2 linked regions of the Homo sapiens genome follow. The protein of the gene in region 2 interacts with the protein of the main gene of each other region in a pairwise test. Each region holds a gene or a part of one and is shown on either strand. Other genes may lie near its edges.

The links.
Region 1: the proteins of PRKD3 (region 2) and DLAT interact in a two-hybrid assay, tested with the Homo sapiens proteins (one large-scale study listed by BioGRID and IntAct).

Annotation. Positions count from the first base shown.
Region 1 is NC_000011.10:112,031,242-112,036,461, reverse strand, and holds part of DLAT (dihydrolipoyllysine-residue acetyltransferase component of pyruvate dehydrogenase complex, mitochondrial isoform 2 precursor), read right to left. Parts: intron 3,059-5,220; coding exon 2,932-3,058; intron 1-2,931.
Region 2 is NC_000002.12:37,271,996-37,277,215, forward strand, and holds part of PRKD3 (serine/threonine-protein kinase D3), read right to left. Parts: intron 3,850-5,220; coding exon 3,772-3,849; intron 2,703-3,771; coding exon 2,426-2,702; intron 438-2,425; coding exon 385-437; intron 1-384. UniProt on the Homo sapiens protein: Converts transient diacylglycerol (DAG) signals into prolonged physiological effects, downstream of PKC. Involved in resistance to oxidative stress.

The sequences.
Region 1 (5,220 bases), on a different chromosome or scaffold from region 2:
GCGGGTGGATCACCTGAGGTCGGGAGTTCGAGACCAGCCTGACCAACGTGGAGAAACCCCGTCTCTACTAAAAATACAAAATTAGCCAGGCATGGTGGCGCATGCCTGTAATCCCAGCTACTCGGGAGGCTGAGGCAAGAAAATCACTTGAACCCAGGAGGTGGAGGTTGTGGTGAGCCGAGATCGTGCCATTGCACTCCAGCCTGGGCAACAAGAGCGAAACTCCGTCTCAAAAAAAAAAAAAAAAAAAAAAAAAAAAACACACACACACACACACACACACACACACACACATATATACACACACATATATATATATACACACACATATATATATGTTTAAGTCTGGAGATATATATATATATGTTTAAGGCTGGGCACGGTGGCTCACGCCTGTTATCCCAGCACTTTGGGAGGCCAAGGTAGGTGGATTACCTGAGGTCAGGAGTTCAAGACCAGCCTGGCCAACATGGTGAAACCCCATCTCCACTAAAAATACAAAAATTAGCCAGGCATGGTGGCAGGCGCCTGTAATCCCAGCTACTTGGGCAGCTGAGGCAGGAGAATTGCTTGAACCCGGGAGGTGGAAATTGCAGTGAGCCAAGATCATGCCATTGCACTCCAGCCTGGGCGACAAAGCAAGACTCTATCTCAAAAAAAAAAAAAAAAAAGGCTGGGTGCGGTGGTGGCTCACGCCTGTAATCCCAGCACTTTGGGAGGCACAAGGCAGTCAGATCACGAGGTCAGGAGTTCAAGACCAGCCTGGCCCACATAGTGAAACCACATTTCTACTAAAAATACAAAAATTAGCCGGGCGTAGTGGCATGCACCTGTAGTCCCAGCTACTCAGGAGGCTCAGGCAGGAGAATCGCTTGAACCCAGGAGGCAGAGGTTGTGGTGGGCCGAGATCACGCCACCGCACTCCAGCCTGGACAACAGAGCCAGACTCTGTTTCCAAAAAAAAAAAAAAGAAGTGTTTAAAATGAAAAGGCTCCTGGGCCACAATAGACTTCAAAGTTCAACCAAGGTAACACTTCTCTAGTGACTAGTCTCTATAGTGACACTGGTATTCAAGTTAAATGGTGAAGCAGAACTACTGTTTCCAAAGTTTCTGTGTTTTTAAGAAACAGAATCCTTTCTTCAAATAAAATTTATGGGGAAGCACAAAATACAAAAAGATAGAAAAGAACTGCTCTGCTGGAAGTAAGGCAGGGAGGCAGGGCTGTAAGGTCCTGCTCTTTAATTCCCCCTTTGCCTCAAGGTGCCTTAAAGGAATGATGGGATTTGAAGAACACAATCTGAAAACAACCAAGGCAGAGGATGCCCAGTACCTCCCATTACATCTTTGGGAAAGGCTTCCCTTTGGTGGTGATTATGAAGCAGAGAGGCTGGGTGCGGTGGCTTATGCCTGTAATCCCAGCACTTTGGGAGGCCGAGGCAGGCAGATCACCTGAGGTTAAAGAGCTCGAGACCAGCCTGGCCAACATGGTGAAACTCCATCTCTACTAAAAATGCAAAAAATTAGCCAGGCATGGTGGTGCATGCCTGTAGTCCCAGCTACTCGGGAGGCTGAGGCAGGAGAATTGCTTGAACCCAGGAGGCGGAGGCTGCAGTAAGCCAAGATCGCACCACTGTACTCAAGCCTGGGTGACAGAGCAAAACTCTGTCTCAAAAAAAAAAAAGAAAAAGCGGGGGTGCAGAGAGAAGAAATTCATAATACTACAAATCGCCATGGCTCACGCCTGTAATCCCAGCGCTTTGGGAGGCCAAGACAGGTGGATCACGAGGTCAGGAGATCAAGGCCATCCTGGCTAACACAGTGAAACCCCATCTCTACTAAAAATACAAAAAATTAGCCAGGCGTGGCAGCGGGCACCTGTAGTCCCAGCTACTCGGGAGGCTGAGGCAGGAGAATGGCGTGAACCCAGGAGGTGGAGCTTGCAGTGAGCTGAGACTGCGCCACTGCACTCCAGCCTGGGCAACACAGCGAGACTCCGTCTCAAAAAAAAAAAAAATAATAATAATAAATATATTATTGTCTATATGGGTTTTTTTAGCCTAAAAATGAATTAAGAAGGAGATATGTGGACATATGACATATCTGAACATATATATATTACACACATACATTCTATCAGTCATTCTCAAACTATGAAAACAATCTCAACCCTGGTTTCAGTTTTCCCTCAAAGTCATCTTAAATTCTTTGCTATTATCCTGCCATGGAAGTGATTTTCTCCTGTTTCTTCTTGACTTCCTTTGCCTAGTTTAGACAGCAGCAATTCTGATATAGCTTCTCAGTAACATAATAAGGCCAAGAAGCAAACTTGGGCCTAAAAATAATCTGTGAATTGACAGATTGATTGCCTTTGATTCAGTGAGCACAGGATGGAACTGACAAATCTGACTACGCATTATTTTTGTTATAAATTATGCTGGGCCAGGAACAGGGGCTCACGCTTGGAGTCCCAGCACTTTGAGAGGCCAAGGCAGGAGGATCGCTTGAGCCAGGAGTTCAAAACCAGCCTGGGCAATAAAGTGAGACCCCATCTCTACAAAAAATTTAAAAAATCAGCTAGGTGTGGTGGTTCAGGCCTGTAGTCCTACCTACTTGTGAGGCTAAAGCAGGAGGATCATTTGGGCATAAGCCCAGGAGTTCAAGGCTACAATGAGCTATGATCTTGCCACCGCACTCCAGCCTGGGCAACAGATTAAGACCCTGTCTGAAAAATAAGCAAATAAACAAATAAATAAATAAAAACTAAAGAATACATATAACTAAATAAAAATAAAATATTCTGTCCCAGAAAATGAATCCTAAGAATTATAAAGTTTTCATATTATCACTCACTCATTATAGGAAAGAATGGCAATCCTCTTCCTCATTGGGAAACTCAGTGCCTCAACCATTAAGAGCTGAAGAAATCTCACCTATAGTGGCTTTGTCAGTTTCTATCTCTGCCAGTAAGTCTCCTTCACTTAGCTTCTCACCCACTTTTTTTTCCCATCTCTGAACTGTGCCCATGGTCATGGTGGGAGAGAGGGCAGGAAGAAGTACCTGCAGAAACAAACACATATTATTGCTTAATACCAGGAAGACTTCTACATAATAAAAGTCTGGCAGACTTATGTGGTTTCATAGAATGATGGTGACTATGATAATCCAAATACTCACCACAGCAAAAGCTTCACACCTCAATAGCTTCCCACCAGGTAAATCATCCTTCAAATCTCATACTCTGACCCATACTCTTATACTCTCGCCCACACTCTAACACACACTCCAAGTTAAATGCAACAAGCACATGGGAAAGATTTCTTTCAGACAGTCAAAATTAATTTCTCAACATCTAAGTATGGAGCATCTTTTCATCTATTTTTATTTTTATTTTTATTTTGAGACAGAGTCTTGCTCTGTCCCCCAGGCTGGAGAGCAATGGCGCAATCTCGGCTCACTGCAACCTCCACCTCCTGGTTTCAAGTGATTCTCCTGCCTCAGCCTCCCGAGTAGCTGGATTACAGGCGGGTGCCATCATGCCCACTAATTTTTGTATTTTTGTAGAGATGGGGTTTTACCATGTTGGCCAGGCTGGTCTCTGAACGCCCATCCACAAGTAATCCGCCCGCCCTGGCCTCCCAAAGTGCTGGGATTACAGGCGTGAGCCACCGCGCCCAGACTTCATTTTTTTTTAACCAAGAAGTTTTTCATTTTCACAAAATGACCTTGGTCCAAACCATTCTGTTAAAATTTTACTGCGCTCTGTACTTAGCATCTACCTATTTTTTACCCACAGGAAACTGCATTTGTCCCAACCTTACCAGATATCTTTCCAAGATAAAAACGTAATATTAAGAACTGTTCTGTGCTCGCTTCAGCAACACATATACTAAAATTGGAACGATATAGAGATTAGCATGGCCCCTGCGCAAGGACAACAAATTCGTGAAGCATTCCATATTAAAAAAAAAAACATTATTTGGTGACAATAGTTAATAACAATGTATTGTATTCTTGTAAATTCCTGACAGTAGATTTTTAAGTGGCCTAAAAGATAAGTCTATAAAGTAATGCATATATAAATTAGCTCAATCTAGCCATTCCACAATATATACATATTTCAAAACAACTTGTTGTATATAATATATGTACACAGAATTCTTACACAGAATTTTATTTGATAATTTTTTTTTTTTTTGAGATGGAGTCTTACTCTGTTGCCCAGCCTGGAGTGCAGTGGCATGATGATCATTCAAAAAAATAAAACAGGAGGCCAGGCACAGCTGTTCACATCTGTAATCCCAGCACTTTGGGAGGCCAAGGATCACTTGGGAGGGGCGGATCACTTGAGGCCAGGAGTTCAAGACCAGCCGGGCCATCATGTCGAAACCCCCTCCTCTGCTAAAAATACCAAAATTAGCTGGGCATGGTGACACCCACCTGTAGTCCCAGCTACTCAGGAGGCTGAGGCATGAGAATCGCAGAGGTTGCCGTGAGCCAAGATCGTGCCACTACACTCCAGCCATGGTGACAGAGCAAGACTGTCTCAAAAAAAAAAAAAAAAAAAAAAAAAAAAAACAGGAAAGACCAGCATGGTGGCTCATGCCTATAATCTCAGCATTTTGGTAGGCTGATGCAGGAGGATCACTTGAGCCCAGGAGTTCACGACCAGCCTGAGCAACATGATGTAACCTCATCTCTTAAAAAAAAAAAAAAAAAAAAATTAGCTGGGCATGGTGGCACGTGCCTGTAGTCACAGCGTCTTGGGAGGCTGAGGTGGGAGGATGGCTTGAGCCAGGAGGTCAAGGCTACAGTGAGCTAAGATTGCACCACTGCACTCCAGCCTAGGTGAAGAGTGAGACCCTATCTCAAAAAATAAAATAGCTAGGTGTGGTGGTATGTGCATGTATTCCCAGCTAGTCGGGAGGCTGAGGCAGGAGAATCGCTTGAACCCAGGAGGCAGAGGTTGCAGTGAGCCGAAATCATGCCACTGCACTCCAGCCTAGGTGATGGAGTGAGACCCTGTTTCAAAAAATAAATAAATAAAAATAAAAAACCAGGGGTAAAAAAAGCCCTGTTTTTATAATAGCCATTTCCACCCCAATAATATCCAAACATCAGAATGCCTATCTAAATGTAAAATTGCTTTACTATTTATATGGCTTGTGTATCCACTGAATTTGGTTTCATTTGCTATCCTCTTTGTCTTCTGTATCTGATTA
Region 2 (5,220 bases):
AAGGTTGTTCCCCAACCCTCATCCATTCAGCACTTCTGTCAGTAATCCATTCCATCCTTTCAGGTATAGCTCAAATTGCACTTCCTTTAGGAAGCTTCCCCTGCTGACCCCACAAGAAGTAATGTCTGCCTTCTCTTTGAACCAGTCTTATCACTTTGTAACACTGTAATGTAACTTTTTCTAGTGAAAAAGTTAGCTTTATTTTTAATTTTAAAAATCTGCCCTAGTTTCCTCTATAAAGCAGAACTCCTTAGGGAAGTTACCAACCGCAAAGTCTAGCCTAGTACTTTGGGCGATGAACCAATTTCTCTAATAAAGATTTTCACCTTTTATTTTCCTTATTTTAATCACCCAGTTTACACATTAGCTATAACGATTACTTACCACATTCTCCTGAATCTGACAATTAGATACAGAGATACTTGTAGACAAATCTTCTGTAAAATATAAAAAAGACAAAATTTAGTATATGACAATATTATTAATCTTTACTGACATGTGAATGCTCATGGTATATCAAACTTTAAAAAGTTTAGCACACAGTTAATACAATTATGTACATTAACAAAATCTACACATACAACCCATCAACAGGAAACTAGATAAAATATGATACATCCATACAAAAGAATACTATCTCAACATTTAATCGATGATGTAGGACTATAAATACTGAATCAGAAAGTCAGAAAGCTAGTTATGATTATTACTGAGTTAAAAAGGGAAGTTTTACTGTAATCCCAGTGCATTAGGACGCTGAGGCAGGAGGATCACTTGAGCCCAGGAGTTTGAGACCACCTGGGCTACAGGATACCCTATCTCTAAAAAAATTTTAAAATTAGCCAGGCATAGTGGTGTGCACCGGTAGTCCTAGCTACTCAGGAGGCTGAGACAGGAGGATCTGAGCCCTGGAGTTTGAGGTTGCAGCAAGTTATGATTTGCGCACTGCACTCTCACCTGGGCGACATAGCGAGACCCTGTCTCTTGGTGGGGGGAGGGGGGGAAGTGGAGTCAAGGGAATTGCAGGGTAGCAGTGCTTAAATTAAAAACAAAAATCTGTGATTACTTTTGGTGAGTGGAAGAGGTGGGGTTGGGGGACAAAGAGTTTTTATACACTTCTAAATTGCTTGCATTTTTATAATTTTATAATGTTGTTTTTTGGTACTTTAATACATTTATTGCCTGAAATAAATCACCTCATTTATCTTTTAAAGAGTGTGTAAGTGCCTGTATTGTTTTCTGAGGAAACAGTCCTAGTTTTAATTAGAATGACATAGAGTTCTGTCTAAAAACCTCGAAAACTTAAGAACCACTGTGAAACATCCATCTACTTACACCCATTCCAACCCCAAATCAGTACTGAACACCAAACATGTACACAGTTGTCATGATCCTCATCACACTTGTCTCAACTAAATAATGTTACCCCTCCACCCCTCCCACTGAGATCTGCCTACTGTATTTCTACCTGAGGTTCAAATCAGGTTCTTCTATGAAGTCTTGTTTACTCTTCTGTCTGTATCTGAGTTTTTTAAGTAATGTATTCCTCACTTTTGCACTGTACTGCTTTATGCTACCATCTAATACCTTTATATATCCCATCTCTCCCTAAAGAGCTTTTATGATTTCTGTATTTATTTTGTATTTTAGCTCAGGGCCTAGCATAATAGTTGTACAAAATAATACAGCTAAACTAAAATAAACTACCTTTGGAAAGTTGTTGATACTTATTTCAATTTGAGTATATTTCTCAAATGAATGACTTATGTGTCCCCATAAGCAACATAATGTTAATGGGGGAGAAGTGACATTATAGTGACCTTTCGATTGTTAACTGTTTACTTTTGAAACTTTATCCAATTTAGGCTTAATTATATAAGTTTTGTTGGTGCAAAACATGTTTCAGTGATTTTTAAATATTTCTGTATGTTTTAATACAGCATTTCTGACTTCACAGATTTCATGAGTGTGATGTGAACCATAATACTTTATTGCCTGTTTATATCCCACTATAAAGCAAAATATTAATACCAGTAGCAGGCATAATCCAATGAGACTTTACGGATGCCAAGCACTGTTCTGTATCTTACAGGTTCTCTTTCATTTAATACTGACAACCTTATGAAGTACTTACTACTACAGTGAGGTAAAGTACTTGCCTGATCATATAACAGATGGTATAGCCAGGATTTTCATGTAGGAAAACTGACTCTGGAGCCTAGCACTGGGCATTGTATGTACGTATATATACTATAACCAATATAATTTTATAAAAGAGTTAACTAATTGTATTGGTTACTAAAGTATTGGTTACTAAAGACTAAGCTTAGGATGAACATTAAAAGGAACAAAGGAACACAACCATACCCACAAAATGCTTAAGAATTAAAGAGGAGAAAAAGCCATCAAGAAGTTTATTGCTTACTGTGATCTTTCCCTTGCCCTGGAGAAGTGCAAACACTTGCTTGAGGAGTAACAGGCATGAGGGCTTGGCGAATTGCTTTTTCCCAGCTCTGTGCTACATCAAGTCCAACTCCAGTGGCAGCAAGAACAGGATTATGAGAGCTGTCCCCATTGTTCTCACCAACGAAGTATACCATAGTATCAGTAATGATTTCAAAACAGTGTGGATTGCTGCCTTGTGAAATGTTTGTGAAATCTCGTGGTGAAGATATGCGGAGAATTTCTGAAAGTGGAATTTCCTGAAGTAAAAAATTAAGCATTGAAAAATAAGAATAGATCTTTGTTTTTATTTTTAAATACACTAAAGAACCAGAGATATGCATTTCAATGAATGCCATTAAGACGGACACAAGTATGCAACATTTAATACACAGTTGAGTCTTATGACATGGCCTGTCTTGAATGAGCTGCAATGTCCAGCAATGCCAGACGCAGAGCATGGACTATGATAACTAAGCCAGTAGCAGATCATTAGGATGCAAGGAAGAAGATATAGGAGAGTAATCTGCCACTATATCCAACACTTGTAACTTCCAACTGTCATTAATTCAGCTTCACAACTACTTATCTAGTGACTGTAGTCTACAAGATATAGCCCCAAAGCAAGTAAGAAGCAGAAATAATGGCAGAAAAAGCAGAATCTTGGTCAGTTGTTTAAGCCACTCCCATTCTGGTTCTGTCCACTGGAGTAACCTGTAGCAATCATTATATTTTTAGTCCACTTCCTAAGGCAAAAAAAAAAACTTACTAAAAACAAACAAACAAAAAAACACCTGCTCAAAGCAAGCCATTAGTTCCCATTCTCTCTTACTGACCTAACTGCTTGGTTATAATCTTGCTTGCTATCAGTTTGTGATGTGGCAAAACGTGGAATAAGCCAAGCAAGGAAGACTGTAAAAAGGAGATTAAGAGCCAAACAAGCAATTGGGAATTGGCACCCAAGGTAAGGTGGAAGGTGGGAGAAATACTAAATACCTCACTGACCTCTTCTGGACAGTCAATGATGATGGGACTTTCTAAGCAGTCTAATCTAAATCAGAGTATCCAGAAGGAAAGCAGCAGCAACCTGACAGGCAAGCCAGAAATAAATAAATACACGACAACAACAAACAGTCTGGAAGGAGAGCTGCTGTGGGGGAGTGAAATTTGGTATGGGAAATAGTTGCTTCAACAAGGAACCTAACAGTGACTTCTATAAACCATACTAGCTAGAGTCATATATATTCAAATATAACAGTTAATGAATATTATCTGAAAAAAACATACACTATCTTAATGCTTATATTTTTTAAAGTGTAAAATCCTTACCTTATAATACTTTGATCCAGATTCATTCTGAAATAATGTTAGACATTTGCTGTCAAGTCTCCAATAATGCCTCTTTCTCTATAAAATGAAGATTGGAAAACTGTGAGGTTCAAAAATGATTCCTCCAAAGTGCTTGTACCTAACTTTTCCCTTCATTTACATTCATAAATTTGTATTTTTGAATAACTTTAAGATTCATGAGGTTCAAAATTCTCAAGATATAAAAAGGATGTATGGTGAAAAGTATCACTTCCACCATCACTCATCCCCACTCCTCACCCTTACTCCAGGCAAAGCATGTTATCAGGTTTCTGGGAATCCTTGTAGAGAATTTCATACATGCACACATGAATACATATATATATATGACACATACACACACACACATAAAAATATGTAATTTACCTATAGGCTATATTTCTAGAAGTTGATTTGCTGGGTCAACAGACATGTGCACATGTAATTTTGCCTGATAGTGTTATATTATTCTACACAAGATTTGACCCAATTTATAGTCTCTTCAGCAACGTATGAGAGTCCCTAGTTACTCACACCCTCATTAATGCAGTATGTTAATAACTTTTTGATCTTTGCTATACTGAAAAATAAACACTGGTATTTCAGTGAAAGGTTAAAGTGATATTCCTTTTATTATAAATGAAATCAAGTTCTTATGTGTAAGAGTCATTTGTATTTCCTGTGAAACTCTCTGTTCATATTCTTTGTCCATTTTCCTATTGCGTTATGTTCTTTTTCTTATCAATTTGTTGGCATTCTTCACATCTTATGGAATTAACCCTTGTTTAGAATGAGCTGAAAATATTTTTTCCAGTTTCTCATTTGTCTTTGCTTTTGGATTTTGCCACATATCATTTTTTAATGAGATTGAATTTATTGATCTTTTATTCTTGAATTTGTAAAATAATTCTCCCAAAGTTTCTTCTGTTTAATTTCTTTACACTCAAATCTTTGATACATTTAGGTTTATTATGTATAAAGTATGAGGTGTGTGTATATATGTATATATACACACACACACATACACATATATATACATATATATTCATATATATACATATATATAACTTTATTTTTTTCAAAATGGCTAGATGCTTGTCCCAACACCATTTACTGAATTAACTACTTTCCCCATTAATTTGATGTAAAAGCACCTTTGATATACCATTAAATTCGCAAAGGTAGGCACACCACTTCAAGTTACATTCGCAAGGATATGAACTATAAATAAAACACATACACACTGCAGTCTATACTGTTGTTATCATACAAAACTTTAGGCCAGCTAAATGTATTGGGTACTTCATTTTATTCTTAAAAGGTTTATTAGAAAGCTTGTTTCAATAATCTACTCAGCAGACTTTAAAAATAAAATACTAGCTACTAACATTTATTGAGTGTTTCTGTATGCCAGACACTGTTCCAAGATCT